Linked DNA regions of Homo sapiens. The protein of the gene in region 1 interacts with the protein of each later gene in a pairwise test. Each region holds a gene or a part of one and is shown on either strand. Other genes may lie near its edges.

What was found.
Region 2: the proteins of POU2F1 (region 1) and HIVEP1 interact in a two-hybrid assay, tested with the Homo sapiens proteins (one large-scale study listed by BioGRID).
Region 3: the proteins of POU2F1 (region 1) and TLX2 interact in a two-hybrid assay, tested with the Homo sapiens proteins (one large-scale study listed by BioGRID and IntAct).
Region 4: the proteins of POU2F1 (region 1) and CREM interact in binary tests that used the Homo sapiens proteins (3 or more experiments, as listed by UniProt).

Annotation. Positions count from the first base shown.
Region 1 is NC_000001.11:167,423,386-167,426,885, reverse strand, and holds part of POU2F1 (POU domain, class 2, transcription factor 1), read right to left. Parts: 3' UTR 1-3,500. UniProt on the Homo sapiens protein: Transcription factor that binds to the octamer motif (5'-ATTTGCAT-3') and activates the promoters of the genes for some small nuclear RNAs (snRNA) and of genes such as those for histone H2B and immunoglobulins.
Region 2 is NC_000006.12:12,015,312-12,018,811, reverse strand, and holds part of HIVEP1 (zinc finger protein 40), read right to left. Parts: intron 3,287-3,500; 5' UTR 3,184-3,286; coding exon 3,144-3,183; intron 1-3,143.
Region 3 is NC_000002.12:74,513,191-74,517,249, forward strand, and holds TLX2 (T-cell leukemia homeobox protein 2), read left to right. Parts: upstream 1-1,259; 5' UTR 1,260-1,616; coding exon 1,617-2,016; intron 2,017-2,442; coding exon 2,443-2,680; intron 2,681-2,782; coding exon 2,783-2,999; 3' UTR 3,000-3,958; downstream 3,959-4,059. UniProt on the Homo sapiens protein: Transcription activator that binds DNA elements with the consensus sequence 5'-CGGTAATTGG-3'. Binds DNA via its homeobox. Required for normal cell death of enteric neurons in the gastrointestinal tract.
Region 4 is NC_000010.11:35,185,846-35,189,345, forward strand, and holds part of CREM (cAMP-responsive element modulator), read left to right. Parts: intron 1-2,354; coding exon 2,355-2,543; intron 2,544-3,500.

The sequences.
Region 1 (3,500 bases):
AATAGCCACCCAGAGTGCAGAGTTATCTAAGAGAAATGTAGAAGGACTCCCAATAAACCACCTCAGAATTGTCACTGCCTCATTCAAGCTGCTGGACAATTTTGGAAAGAATCATTTACACCACATCTTAAGTTTCCACAAAGAAGAACTCAAACTCACATTTTAAAGTACATAAAACAAAAAGTTCTAGGAGGCCGGGGGCCAATTCCCCTTGTGCCCCTCCTTTGACAACAGTGGACAAACACCCCTGAATTAATAATTAAGACAAAAAAGGAAGAAAAAAAAAGTGAGTTAAGATATTGAAAGAGAGAAAGAAAACATCTTTAGAAAAACACGATCACTGTCTCTTTAAAAGAAAACAAAATCCCAGTTGGGAACAGTAATGAGGAATATGCAATCTAAATTGACACCTGGTGGGAGATTATTATTGAATATTATGTACACTCAGAACTTTTTTCATTTTCTTTTTTATTATGAACACCTAGGCAGTGAAAACTGTTATGTTAATACATACATAGACACACCCAAAACATACAAAAATACTATTATTTCAAACTACTAAGAATAGGACAGTTCAATTATTTTCATGCTATGACTTTAAGAGCATTACACTGAAACAAACAAGAAGTTAAACGACATTTTTTTTTTAATATCCCAGAAATATACCAAAATATACATCTAAGCTTTGGAATTACTGAGGTTAGACTAATGCAAGTGCTGGGTAATCGTACTTAATACACGAGTCTAAGGTTCTGCAGGAAAGAAATTATCTTTGGTATCTGCATCAGGCTAATATTATTAACATTTGGATTTTGCTTTGGGATAGAGCTTGTGTGACCCAAGAACCAAGTACCCCCCTCCCCCAACCAACTGAGATTAAAAAGATCCATGTAAAAAGTTCCTTCATTTGCAATCCCCCCACCCCCCAAGTTAAAAAGTCACAGGCATCTACCTAGCACAAAAGGTTGTGAAGTACAATGCATAGTTGCACAGTGGTGCTGCAAAAAGGAAAGAAAACTACAATAAAGAGAAATGAAAAGCTTGATAATCTTTCTGCATGTTTTCTCACAAACAGGACAGCCACTTCCAAGCAGTTCCAGTACAGGAAAAGAAAAAAAGGCTCAGAAGGGCACCGTGGCGTGCATTCGCCCAGCCCCAGAGGTTAAAGCACCCAGCAGAGCAGCCAATCGTGCGCCAGTGTCTTCAACGTCCCCCACTCTGTGGAGTCCTCGGGCCAGTCCAGCAGCAGCTCCCACCCTCCCTAGGCCCTGTGCTAAGTCCCCATAGTGACCCTGGTTGGTGTAGGGTGGATGATGGTGGTGATGGGGTTTTTTGACTTTTGTTTTGGAAAATCTGAAATGCCAATTTGTTTCAGGGCATGCTCACAAGTTTGTGAGGGCCAAAGCTAGGGGCATGCACCTGTGCTGGACCCTGGAAGGTGGTAAGCAGCTTGCCTGCCCTTTCTGATCCAGTCAGAGGGTCCCCCCGCCCCACCTTCCCTGGCCTCACTCTTCTAAGTGCCAGGACACCACAGACTGGACTGATGCTGAAGACTTCCCTTTTCTTTGGTTCTTTTGTTTGTTTTGAGTTTATACAATCATTAAGAAATCTTTGGTTTTGGCTGGAAATTTGAAAAACAAAACAAAACAAAACAAAACAAAGAAACCACCCTCCCCTGGCTTATAGCAGCAGTATCATGACCTGGCTAAGCTTTTTGTCAGCATTAGGGGTGGGAATTGAAGGTTGGGAACTACATTCAAAGAAAAGGTGAAAGGGCTGGGGATGCAGCTTCTAGAGAGCCCATTGGATATAAGATTGTCAAATAATAATAATAATAATAATAAACTTAAATATTTGGATATTTTTGGTCATGTCAAAGGAAAAAAAGTGAAATGTGTATGCAGCAGTCAGCTTAAAGGAGCCTTTGGTGTCTTCCCTTCTACCCAAAGTCCTGAAAAGAAACAGAACCCTGAGGCCTCAGAGGAGAAGGGGTTGGCCTCTACCCCACCAAGGAAAAGGCAAGTACAGAAGTTGACGTGTGGCCAGCTGTCAGAAACACAGGGTGGGTTAGGGGTGTGGATAGCTGGCCAGCCCCTAAAGGCAGGGTGGCAGGGAAAGCAGATGTTAAGAGACCTGTGAAGACCCCTTGCAACAAAAAGGAATAGAAGATTGCAATTTGCCCTCAGTTTGCAGTAGCTTTTAAGCAGCGACATTCAGAGGCTTTAGGGGGTCCCACCCTAGGCTACAGGTCCCATGATGCTATAGGCCAGAGTTTAACATGACTGAGGAGGGAGGGCAGACTTGGCAACTCTGTAGGATTTCGAGAAAGTTAAAGCAAGTCACTCGGTCACGAGTTAGAAATGAGGTATACAACAGCTCCTGGACTTCTGGTGGGTAGAACAGCCCACGCTTACTCACCTAGCCTTCACTACTACCACAGATGAGGGGATGGAAGTACAGACTTATGCGGGAGGAGAGCGTTTCCTGCGGAGTGAGACCTCCTGCGGACTGAGCAATGCACACGTGCCCATGCACGCAGAGGTAAGAAGCTGGAAGTCTTTCTTTCCCCGACCTGACCTTAGGGAAGATACAACATTTATGTTGTCAAAAGCCAATGTTATAATATGATTGCAAAATCTTAGGCTTCCTGCACCAACCTGTTCCATGTTCTCCAACTGTTTGCAGTTTTAAACCTATTCAGGCTGGCACTAGTCCACTCTACTCTTACAAAGTGTGTGCCTTCTGCAGACTCACGCAGGAATGGAACCAAGGACATGGCATCCCCGACTGCCTACAACTACAGCCTTTTGTAGCAGACACTGTCATTTTAGCTTCTGAAAGTGCATTTCATTTCTTCCTATACTTTTAGACCATGAGACTCATTAAGGCTGGGTGGGAGCACAAAGTCTTTTCTCTACTTGGCTCTGTCCTTTTTCATTTGAAAGAGATCCCAATCTTAAGAAACTCAAGTGTTTGGACGTCTCATTTATACACAGCGCTGTATCCAGCTGTCTGCCTGCAGACTTTGGGATATAATGTTTGAGAACTCAATGCCACTGCCAATTTATGAAAGAAGCCTTAAGCTGCTCTTGTGAAGCTGTGGCTAACTTATACAATGATGAACAAGTACACAAAGAAAACAAGGGAAAACTTTGCAGCAGTCCTCAATGTTTTTTACAGTAAATTAGTTTTGGGGTCTTAACTTTTTGACAGTGTCCTGGGTTTAAACCAGAAGGTGGCCCTGGGTGGTGGAGCCCTGTGCAGGGTGGGCAGATACAGGGACACAGAAACAATCATAAATCACATCTTCCCTACCAGGTCCAAGGGACCTTTGTTTCTGTGCTCAAAGTGGTGTTCCATTACACACACCTTGTTTTCCCAGAACTTCTGTTTCAAGTGCTCTAATCTTCAACATCCCTATTACCTACTTATAAACCTATCTAGCACTTTGACAAGTCATACAATATTAATACCACCTTTACATAATGTCAGAACAATAA
Region 2 (3,500 bases), on another chromosome or scaffold:
GCTCTAGAAGTAGAGAACCATTTAAAGTTGCTCAGAGTCCCCAAGTTATTTCACAACCTGCTACCCCAGGATGAAATGCACTCACTTTGCCTTGTCAGCTTCGCAGATAACTTCCCAGCCTTAAGAACCAAATCCAGGTGTTAACTTTCCTTCCCTAAATCATCATTCTGCTTCACCCCAAACTGCGCCCCCTACAATGGGGACAAAATAATGACTCCCTATCTCTGTGGAATCTCCATACTATTCATTTCTCACCATAGTACATAGTTACATGTTTACCTATCAGCTCTTCAACTCCATTCTTCTTTCGAGACCTGTGTTTTATCATTTTATCCCTATCATAAGAACATGAAGTACATGAAGGTAGTAATGAGAGGTGACACCGTGCTGTCAGCCCTCACTCGCTCTCGGCGCCTCCTCCGCCTTGGTGCCCACTCTGGCCGCGCTTGAGGAGCCCTTCAGCCCGCCGCTGCACTGTGGGATCCCCTTCCTGGGATGGCCCAGGCCAGAGCCGGCTCCCTCAGCTTGCAGGGAGGTGTGGAGGAAGAAGCGCGGGCAGGAACGGGGGCCGCGCGTGGCGCTTGTAGGCCAGCTAGAGTTCCCAGTTGGCGTGGGCTTGGCAGGCCCCGGGCAGTGAGGGGCTTAGCACCCAAGCCAGCAGCCGCGAAGGGTGCGCCAGGTCCCCCAGCAGTGCCGGCCCACTGGTGCTGCGCTCGATTTCTCGCCGGGCTTTAGCTGCTTCCCCGTGGGGCAGGGCTCAGGACCTGCAGCCCGCCATGCCTAAGCACCCCCCACGCCATGGGCTCCTGCACGGCCCCAGCCTCCCCGATGAGCGCTGCCCCCTGTTCCTAGGCGCCCAGTCCCATCGACCACCCAAGGGCTGAGTAGTGCAGGCACAAGGCGCAGGCAGCTCCACCTGTGGCCCCAGTGCGGGATCCACTGGGTGAAGCCAGCTGGGCTCCTGAGTCTAGTGGGGACCTGGAGAAACTTTATGTCTAGCTAAGGGATTGTGAATACACCAATCAGCACTCTTTATCTAGCTCAAGGTTTTTAAATACACCAATCAGCACTCTGTATCTAGCTAATCTAGTGGGGACCTGGAGAACTTTTGTGTCTAGCTCAGGGATTGTAAACACACCAATCAGCACCCTGTCAAAATGGACCAATCAGCTCTCTGTAAAACAGACCAATCGGCTCTCTGTAAAACGGACCAATCAGCAGGATGTGGGTGGGGCCAGACGGGAGAATAAAAGCAGGCTGCCGGAGGCAGCAGTTGCAACTGCTTGGGTCCCCTTGCAGACTGTGGAAGCTTTGTTGTTGTGCTCTTTGCAATAAATCTTGCTACTGCTTGCTCTTTGAGTCTGTACTGCCTTTATGAGCTATAAAACTCACCGCAAAGGTGTGCAGCTTCACTCCTGAACCAGCGAGACCACGAACCTACCAGAAGAAAGAAACTCCAAACACATCTGAACATCAGAAGGAACAACCTGTGGACACGCTACCTTTAAGAGCTATAACACTCACGGCGAGGGCCTGTGGCTTCATTCTTGAAGTCAGTGAGACCAAGAACCCACCAATTCCAGACACAGTAACAAACATGTGCTGAGTTGAACATTTATTTGATACAGAAAGGAAAAGAGCCTATGGCCTGTAAATCTGTGTTTCTCAGGATAGTCATTTTATCTAGAATGTTATGAACATATATTTTAAATATGAAAAATGTTTAATACTTATGGCCTAATAAATAACACCTTCAGATCAATCATGCACTCGTTCCTTCAACAAATATTTGGGCTGCCATTAGCTGCCAGGAACTGTGCTGGGCTAGGGCTGCTGCTCATCTGTATGCTGCACTTGTGCAAACTAGAACAGGGTGCCCTCCCTGGACAGATAAAGCAGGGCCCATGTCTCCAAATGCCCACCTCAGCTGGTACCCTTGGGTCTGGAGGCTTTTCCTACAGTAACAAATGAGAGTGAGTCTCTAGGGAGTTCAGATTCTAGTGAGGGGGACGGGCAAACACATTCAATTTTCAACGTTTTCTATATGACTATAAAAAATCAGATTTCCACACACCACACTTGTTCTCATGTAAATCTCCACCTCATTGAACACTGGTTACTACAATCATCAATTTGAACTTAGGCTGAGGCATCCACCTGAGGCAACAGAGATTTCTAGACAGGAAACAAGCACTATTTCCAGATTCACGGAGGCCATAAAATTGACTGCATTTTCAAAGATCACCTTATGGTGACTAGCCAAATTGATTTTACCAAAAAACATTTCAAATTAATTTATTTGATTTTTAAGTCACTTCTCCCCTACATACGCTTCAGAATTTTTTTTCTGTAATGGTAAATATTTCATAAAACACCATAGTCAGTTTGGAATTATTTGCTTTAATAGTTCTTGTTTTTAGCACTACTACATTCTTATCTCCTGAAGTTTAATATAAAAGATAATTGCTATTCACCATTGATATAACACGAGAACAATACAAATCTTTTTAAACAATAAGCTAGAATACACTTACTTTTCTACTATTAAAAGTATTCGCGGTTGATGGAAAACACACACTTTTCTGTCTTTGCATGAAATGTGTATCATATATATATTTGTGACCCACTGCTTCTTCGTGGAAAATAACTCAGTTTGCCTCTGACTTCTGCAAGTAATGGTCTGAGTGAATGCCTACAATTCTCTTCACTTCTTATCTTGTTAATCTAACTGATGGAGTGGTACAAAAATAAACCTCAAAAGAACTATGGAGGAAGAGTGAAAAAAAAACATAAAATTCTTAATGATCCAGTTGGCAAAGAATATTTAACCATTACTTTCAGATTCCTTGACCCAAATATGGTTCCTATTAACAAATAGCAACTTTCAGCCTTTAATACCCCATCTAATGGTTTGGAAGGAATGCACTGTAATTTCGTCAAATTCAATTCATTCATTCAACAGATATTTATTAAGTATCTCCTGAGAGACAGGAATTGTGCAGGACTGCTGGAAATGAGCAAGAGAAATAGCGCTCCTCACCAGGCAGGGTCAACATCTAACAAACGGCCATTCCTGTCACCAAAGAGATACTTTGTTAAAAGATTTACAGCAAGCCTTACTTCTACTTAATGCAATGCTTTACCTCTTAGATTTCTGGGATGAATTTGTTTAGTTCGAGGCATCTTCTTTGACTCAGGGCCTTCTTTTTCTTCTTAAAAACTGCAGATAAAGCAAGCCACCAAAAGGCAGCTCCATAAACTCAACATACATCAATTAATCCATGTGCTGAAAAAGAAAAAAACGGAGAAGCACATTTTACTACCTTCAGAGGAGAAAGATACTTTAAAAGTTACTGCCTAGCAGAGCACTAACCTAAACTCAAGAAAAAGTAACCAAGCTGGGCACCACTGCAAAAGATTACTAACTTTTAATTAAACAGAGGTCATTTTGTCAGTATCGGGACTTCTCATTAAGAAAACAGAAAAAAAACACCGTATCT
Region 3 (4,059 bases), on another chromosome or scaffold:
AGCTGCTCGTTGGTGCCCACCCGCCACCGCCACCGCAGGATGGTAGAAGCGCCCCCCTCTCTGAGCCCAGTCTCACCGGCTCAGAGGCGCCAGGGCCCCCCCGGGGGCCGGGGCGGGCCGGGGAAGGTAATGTAATTCCGGCCCAGCTAACCCGATTACCGCGGCCTGCACCGGGCAGGGCGGCGGCGGGGGCGGGTCTAAGGCTCAGGGGCCCGCCCGCGGGGGTCCCATCCCCGGGAAGGACGCAGAGTTCACGCACTCCCGGCTCCTGGATTCATGGCCAGAGGTCACAAGGTCACCAAGCGGCTTAGGTCTTTCCCCACCTCCCTTCTCTGACAGCTCCAGGCCATTTTTTGAGTTTGGGTGGGGTAAAATGTTTATGGGAAACAAGGCGGCCAGGATCCAACCAAGGCCTCAGTGAGGTCCCACGTGTCCCCCGTGGCGAGATTTCGCCCTCCCGCCGTTGAGGAGGAAGAGTGTGAGAACAGACTTCCTAGGCACAGAATGGAGGGGCAGAGTCCTGCATTGAGGACTCCCTGCACTTGGGGTCCGGGGGTAAGTGCCAGCCCCAAGAACCCGCCGGCCTGATTTGGCCCGGGTTGAGCCATGGTCCGTTTTACACGGATTTTGGAAAATCGAAATTCTAGGAAACACAGGACACCAATTACCGGTGCGCATGAACAGGGCTGGGGGGACCTACAGGAGAGGCCAGAAGGCGCACCACGATCGCCAGCCCAAAGCGGCCGTTCCCCGCCCTTAGCCCCTGCCGTCCCCTTCCCACACCTGTTCTCTTCCTGGGCCTGCAGCTCACCGGGCGCCGTTCCCCAGCCGCTTCTTACGCAGCCGGGAAACCACAACGAGATTTGGTCTTCGAGAGCATTTAGGCGGGGACCACAACGAATCCGGGAGTTGGCCAGAAGGATCCATCGAGAGGCGAAGAGTGGGGGCTGGGGGAGGAGGCACCTGCGGAGGAAGCCGGTGAGGCGGAGGCAGCCCAAAGGCGGAGGCCGCCCAAAGGCGGAGGCCAGCAAGGATGGAGGCGCGGTGAGCATCTCCGCTGACTCAGCGGCCCATGCTCGGGCCCCTCCCGCGCTGAGCCTGGCTCCTAACACCCTGGCCCCCTGTCCCCCTCCCCGCACATCTCCGCCAGCCAGCCTTCCCCCTGCGCTTGGCGCAAACAGGCGTCCCTTCCCCTTTAACTGCTGGGCCCCGCCCCTGCCCTACCCCCAGCCCCCACTACCCACCCGGGCCGATCCGTCAGTCACTGCCCCAGCCGGAGCTGGCCAACCCTCTCCACCCGGGACTTGGGCAGCGGCGCCGGCAGCCCAGCGTCTATTTGCGCTTAAGAGCCAGCAAGGAAGCTCCAGGGGCCCCAGCTGGCCGTGCTCCCCCGGGATGCAAGTCCCTGCGCTGACGCCCGGCAGCGGCTGGCACGGGCGCGGCTGCTCCGGGTGCACAGGGATGCTGCTGTTTCGGGGACCCCGGCGCCCTGCCTTGGCCAGCCCCGCGGGCCCCTGAGGCCACTCTCCGGAGCGCGCCGCCGCTGGGCTTCTGGCGCTGCCTGAGGCATCCTCCCCAACCACCGAACCTCCGGCGGTTCTCCTCGGCCCAGACCGATGGAGCCGGGGATGCTGGGTCCACACAACCTCCCACACCACGAGCCAATCAGCTTCGGCATCGATCAGATCCTGAGCGGCCCCGAAACCCCAGGGGGCGGTCTAGGCCTGGGTCGCGGGGGCCAGGGTCATGGGGAGAATGGGGCGTTCTCGGGTGGATACCACGGAGCCTCGGGCTACGGTCCCGCCGGCTCACTTGCCCCGCTGCCCGGCAGCTCCGGAGTGGGCCCAGGCGGCGTGATCCGCGTCCCTGCGCACCGCCCGCTGCCTGTGCCGCCGCCCGCTGGGGGGGCGCCTGCAGTGCCTGGGCCCTCGGGTTTGGGCGGCGCCGGAGGCCTAGCGGGACTCACCTTCCCCTGGATGGACAGCGGCCGCCGCTTTGCCAAGGACCGGCTCACGGGTGAGGTTGTCTGACCCCTCCAGCGTCACGCCCGACTCTGACCCCGTCTCCTCATTTCTTAGCTTTCTGCTCCAACTCAAGGACCCCTTTCACACCTCCCACTAGATCCTCCCAGGGGATCCTCCCCCAACTCAAATCTCTGGGTCCTGCCTCCGAGAGGTGATGGGGAGGGAGCTGCCGTCGGTGCCCGCGCCCTCCTCTGTAGTCCCACTGTCCACGCGTGGGGAGGGGAGGGTGAAGTTACAGGGGACGTCTCCCTCGCATCCCAGGGGAAGGGCCTTTCTTGGCTATAGGGCTCGGCTGATGCTTAGGGCCCGGGTAAGGACAGGGCGCGGGAGTTCTGCGGCCTGGACAGCCGCGCGGCCTTCTCAGTGGCACCTCGGGCCACCCTGCAAATCCTGCCCTGGTCTTTCTTCCTCCCGGTAGCTGCGCTCTCGCCCTTCTCTGGGACGCGCCGCATAGGCCACCCCTACCAAAACCGGACCCCTCCGAAGCGGAAGAAGCCGCGCACGTCCTTCTCCCGCTCACAGGTGCTGGAGTTGGAGCGGCGCTTCCTGCGCCAGAAGTACCTGGCCTCTGCGGAGAGGGCGGCGCTGGCCAAGGCCTTGCGCATGACCGACGCACAGGTCAAAACGTGGTTCCAGAACCGACGCACCAAGTGGCGGTGAGGCGCGGCGCGGGCGAGGGCGGACTGGGGTTCCCGAGCAGGGCCTGGTGAGAAGCGACGCGGCGGGCGCCCCGCTGACCCCGCGTCTCCCTCCCTTAGGCGCCAGACGGCGGAGGAGCGCGAGGCCGAGCGGCACCGCGCGGGCCGGCTGCTCCTGCATCTGCAGCAGGACGCGTTGCCACGGCCGCTGCGGCCGCCGCTGCCCCCGGACCCTCTCTGCCTGCACAACTCGTCGCTCTTCGCGCTGCAGAACCTGCAGCCCTGGGCCGAGGACAACAAAGTGGCTTCAGTGTCCGGGCTCGCCTCGGTGGTGTGAGCGACGCCCGTCCGATCGGCGTGGAGCGCCGGGCCCGGAGCGGTGGAGCGCGCGGCTGCCTGCGTCCATGGTCTAGTGGCAGCCGGGCGCGTGAGGAGCGGCAGGCCTTGAGGCTGTCGTCGAGGGCTCCTCCACCACCGGCCGGCTCCCAAGCCAGCGTTGCGCAGATGCACGGCCAGCTCAGAGGCGGCCTTTCCCGCCATTTTTCACTTCACTGCCGTTACGCCCTCGCTGGAACCTGAGGCGCCGAGAGGGCGGGACCTGCAGGACAGTAGCCAATGAGGTGCGGGGAGGGGGCCGGGCTGGCCAATGGGAGCTGCTTTCCTGAGGGACTCGAAATTCTCCGGCGGGTGGTCGGGAGCTGGGGCTCTGAGGGGCTCTAGCGGCGTTGCGCGCGGTGCCGGCTGGGTCTGTACCAAAGGTGTGAAGGAAAGAAGACACCGACCACGGCGAAGCAATAGAGGGGGTGCTGGAGCGCGAGAGGCTGGCTGATTGTGACCGAAACCAGAGGGTTGTCCACCCCGGGCATCTCATCCCTCAACTGTAAAATAATCGCTAAGGATTCCTTCCTGACTTTGAGCCTCACGTTGTCATGTGTGTTCAGCCTGCTGGCCACATCCTCCGGCAACACGCCCGGGCAGGAGGCGAGTCGGATACTTACACACCCAACGAAAGAGAAAATCTGGCTCCGGTGTCACATAGGGACAGAGAAGGGAGAGGAGGAAACAGTGGACAAAGTTAATGGGCCCAGTGGAGTTAGGGTGAAGAGAATTTGGAAAATAATTTGGAAGTGACAAGCTTAAGAAGAATCAAAGGTAATTCCAAGACTGGAAATGTGCAGCATCAGGAAATCAATGGTGCTGTGGATGATGAAAGGGAAATTGGGAAGACTGGAGCAAAATTAACTGTATAGGCAAAACTAAATGTTATACCTAGAGAGAATAAATCCTGGAGAAGTGCCTTTGAGGGAGATCAGCTGACATCCACATAGAGGTGGACCTAGATAGAATGAATGAGAACAGATAGAATCTCTGAGGGAGGGAACTCTTGAGGAGAAAAG
Region 4 (3,500 bases), on another chromosome or scaffold:
CAGCATGTGGAAGTCTTTTTAAAAATGTTAATCTATCTTCCTGTGTAGACACTGGCACCTTAGGTGAAAGAAGTGAAAATTTGTTGTTGTTACTCTTTCCATAATTCTCATAGGTTTGTCCTATCAGGTTATCGCCTAAGTGCTTTTTTGCCTAGATGCCTTTAAAAACGTTTGGAAATGACTTGAAAATATTCAGAGTGTATTTTAAACACTACTGTTACGCTACTGTAAGGTATTTACATTGATGTATAGATGTCATGTTATTCTGGTGATGTGTTTTTAAAATCTTCATTGTAAAGCCTAGTTAGCTAGTTTATATGTGATTTTTTAAAAAGCATAGCCTCTGGTACCATTTAATATCTACTGTTTGAAGCATGCAGTTGGAATCTTTATGTTAAAATATACAGACCTTTCAGATATTTTAAATAATACTTGTCTATTAGAGTGAAATTTTGAAACAAAACGTTTGATCAGTTATTCTTTGGAAGCTTCAAGTCAATTAATATGTTAACTTTTAAACATGACTGGCAGATCTCAGTATTTAAAGGAAATCTACTTCCTATTTGTTGCCATTAGCTGTAGTTACTTGAGATACTTGGTAGAGGTAAATATTGTAGCACAAATCCTTTTAGTAACAGTTACTTTTTAAGGACCTTTGCAACTTGACAATTTATATTTCAGGATTCTCCTGACATAGACAAAATGGCAAAGGTTACAGTTTTCTAGACTTTAGCTTTATAACCAAAATATGTTTTTATATATATTTATATATAAATATATAATATATGTAAATTATATAGTTATATATAACATATGACATATATAATTATAATAAATATATATTAAAAATTTTGGTCATATATACAACATATATAACTATATATAATTATATATAGTTATAATTATATATAGTTATATATAATATATAACAAATTATATATAACATAATTATGTTATATATAATTGTACATAACATATATACATATATAGGTATATATACGTATATATGTTATATATAATTATATATTATATATAAAATATAAATAATTATAAAAATATAATAATTATTAAAATATATGTTATATATAAATACAATATAAATTATATATATAAATATATAATTTATATATTATATGTGATATATATTATATATTATATATAATATAATATATAATATATATCACATATAATATATATTATATATAATTAATATATATAATTAATATAATAATATATATAATATATAATATATATGATATATATTATATAAATATATAAATATATTAATATATTAATATATAATATATATAATATATATTATATATTAATATTAATATATAAATATATTAATATATAATATATATTATATATTTATATATATAAAATATATAATTATATATAACATATATAATTATATGTATGTTGGTTTTTTTTTTTAGATGGAGTCTCTGTTGCCCAGGCTGGAGTGCAGTGCCGCAATCTCAGCTCACTGCAACCTCCAACTCCCGGGTTCAAGTGATTCTCCTGTCTCAGCCTCCCGAGTAACTGGGACTACAGACACCTGCCACCACACCTGGCTAATTTTTGTATTTTTAGTAGAGGCGGGGTTTCACCATATTGATCAGGCTGGTCTCAAACTCCTGACCTCAGGTGATCTGCCTACCTTGGCCTCCCAAAGTCCTAAGTTTACAGGCGTGAGCCACTGCACCTTGCCTATATATTTCTTAAAAACTACTTTCTTTTGATGACAAATCAGAAAAGTAGTTAGCTGAATGAAGGTAGAAATTCATTTTAATTGCAATATTAAATGGGAATTTTTCTTTTCTTTTCTTTTCTTTTTTTAGAGACAGGGTTTTCCTGTGTTGCCCAGGCTGGCCTTGAACTCCTGGGCTCAAGTGATCCTCCTGCCTTGGCCTCCCAAAGTGCTGGGATCACAGGCATGAGCCACCACACCTGGCCTTAAATGGGAATTTTAAATGGTAGAAGAATGGTGTTTATAAGGAAAAACATCTGAGAGAATGGAGAAAACCAGGAAGCTGGACTCTCCCTGTCTCCTTCTCCACTCTTCCTCTTGAGTGATGTAGTCAGCTGGATGCTAAGGAGGAGGAACACTCCATGGGCTCTATGAATCTCAAACATTTCTGAATATAAAATATTTTCAAGTGTTTATAAGCTTTTCCTAGAGTATCGTCCCATGACGAAGCTGATCTTCCTTCTCAATTCAGCATAGAAAATAAGGGTAACCTGAGAAAGAAGCAATGGTAATAAATAGACCCAGAGTATATTCTTCCAATAGGGGATTATTAAAAATAAATCTTGAAATTCTCTAATATTTCTTTTCTTTTTCTGTTAAGTTGCTATAGCCCAAGGTGGAACAATCCAGATTTCTAACCCAGGATCTGATGGTGTTCAGGGACTGCAGGCATTAACAATGACAAATTCAGGAGCTCCTCCACCAGGTGCTACAATTGTACAGTACGCAGCACAATCAGCTGATGGCACACAGCAGTTCTTTGTCCCAGGCAGCCAGGTTGTTGTTCAAGGTATATTTTATTAATCTAATACATTTAGAATACCTATGGATTACTATATCACACCATTGAGTGGTGATTTTATAGTTTTTTGAAATAGATCGAAGGTAGATGGTGGGGGGTTGGGAGGCACTTAAAAAGGCTTACAGAAGAAATATTTTAATACATTAAACAGCAAATTAAGTTTTATCATTTTTCGCCTTTTAGCAGGTTTTACTGGCTCTGGAGAAAGGCCAAATTCAGAGTAGCATGATAGAAAAAGAGAGATAGAAACATGAATGAATTTTTTTTTTTTTTTTTTGAGATGGAGTCTCGCTCTGGCGCCCAGGCTGGAGTACAATGGCGTGATCTCGGCTCACTGCAACCTGTCTCCTGGGTTCAAGTGATTCTTCTGCCTCAGCTTCCCGGGGAGCTGGGATTACAGGCATGAGCCACCACGCCTGGCTAATTTTTGTATTTTTAGTAGAGACGGGGTTTCACCATGTTGGGCAGGCTGGTCTCAAACTCCTGACCTCAGATGGAGTCGTCCTGACCTCAGGTGGAGGCCTCAGCCTCCTAAAGTGCTGGGATTACAGACGTGAGCCACCGCACCCGGCCACATGAATGAATTTTTAAATTAATTAGATATCCTTCATTTGGGGGTTGCAAATGTTGTACCTAATAGATTTCTATTACCTAATCTATGACAATTTAAGTATTCAGGCTATGATGCCCCAAATTTGTTTTTTTCCCTAGCTGTTACTTTCAAGTCTAATTTCTAGGCAACTCATTTCAAAACAAATGCTGACTTTGGGTTTTTTGTTTTTTTTTGTTTGTTTGTTTTTTTGACTGACTGTTCTTAGTTGTTTGAATTCTGAAGTATCCATTCTAGCTCTTATGGAAGCTGTCAGTAATGAAATAAAAGTTGAGATGTAGCCCTAAGCTTTTAGGGTTACCTGAGATTTCAACTGGATTTGCGTTATACATTAT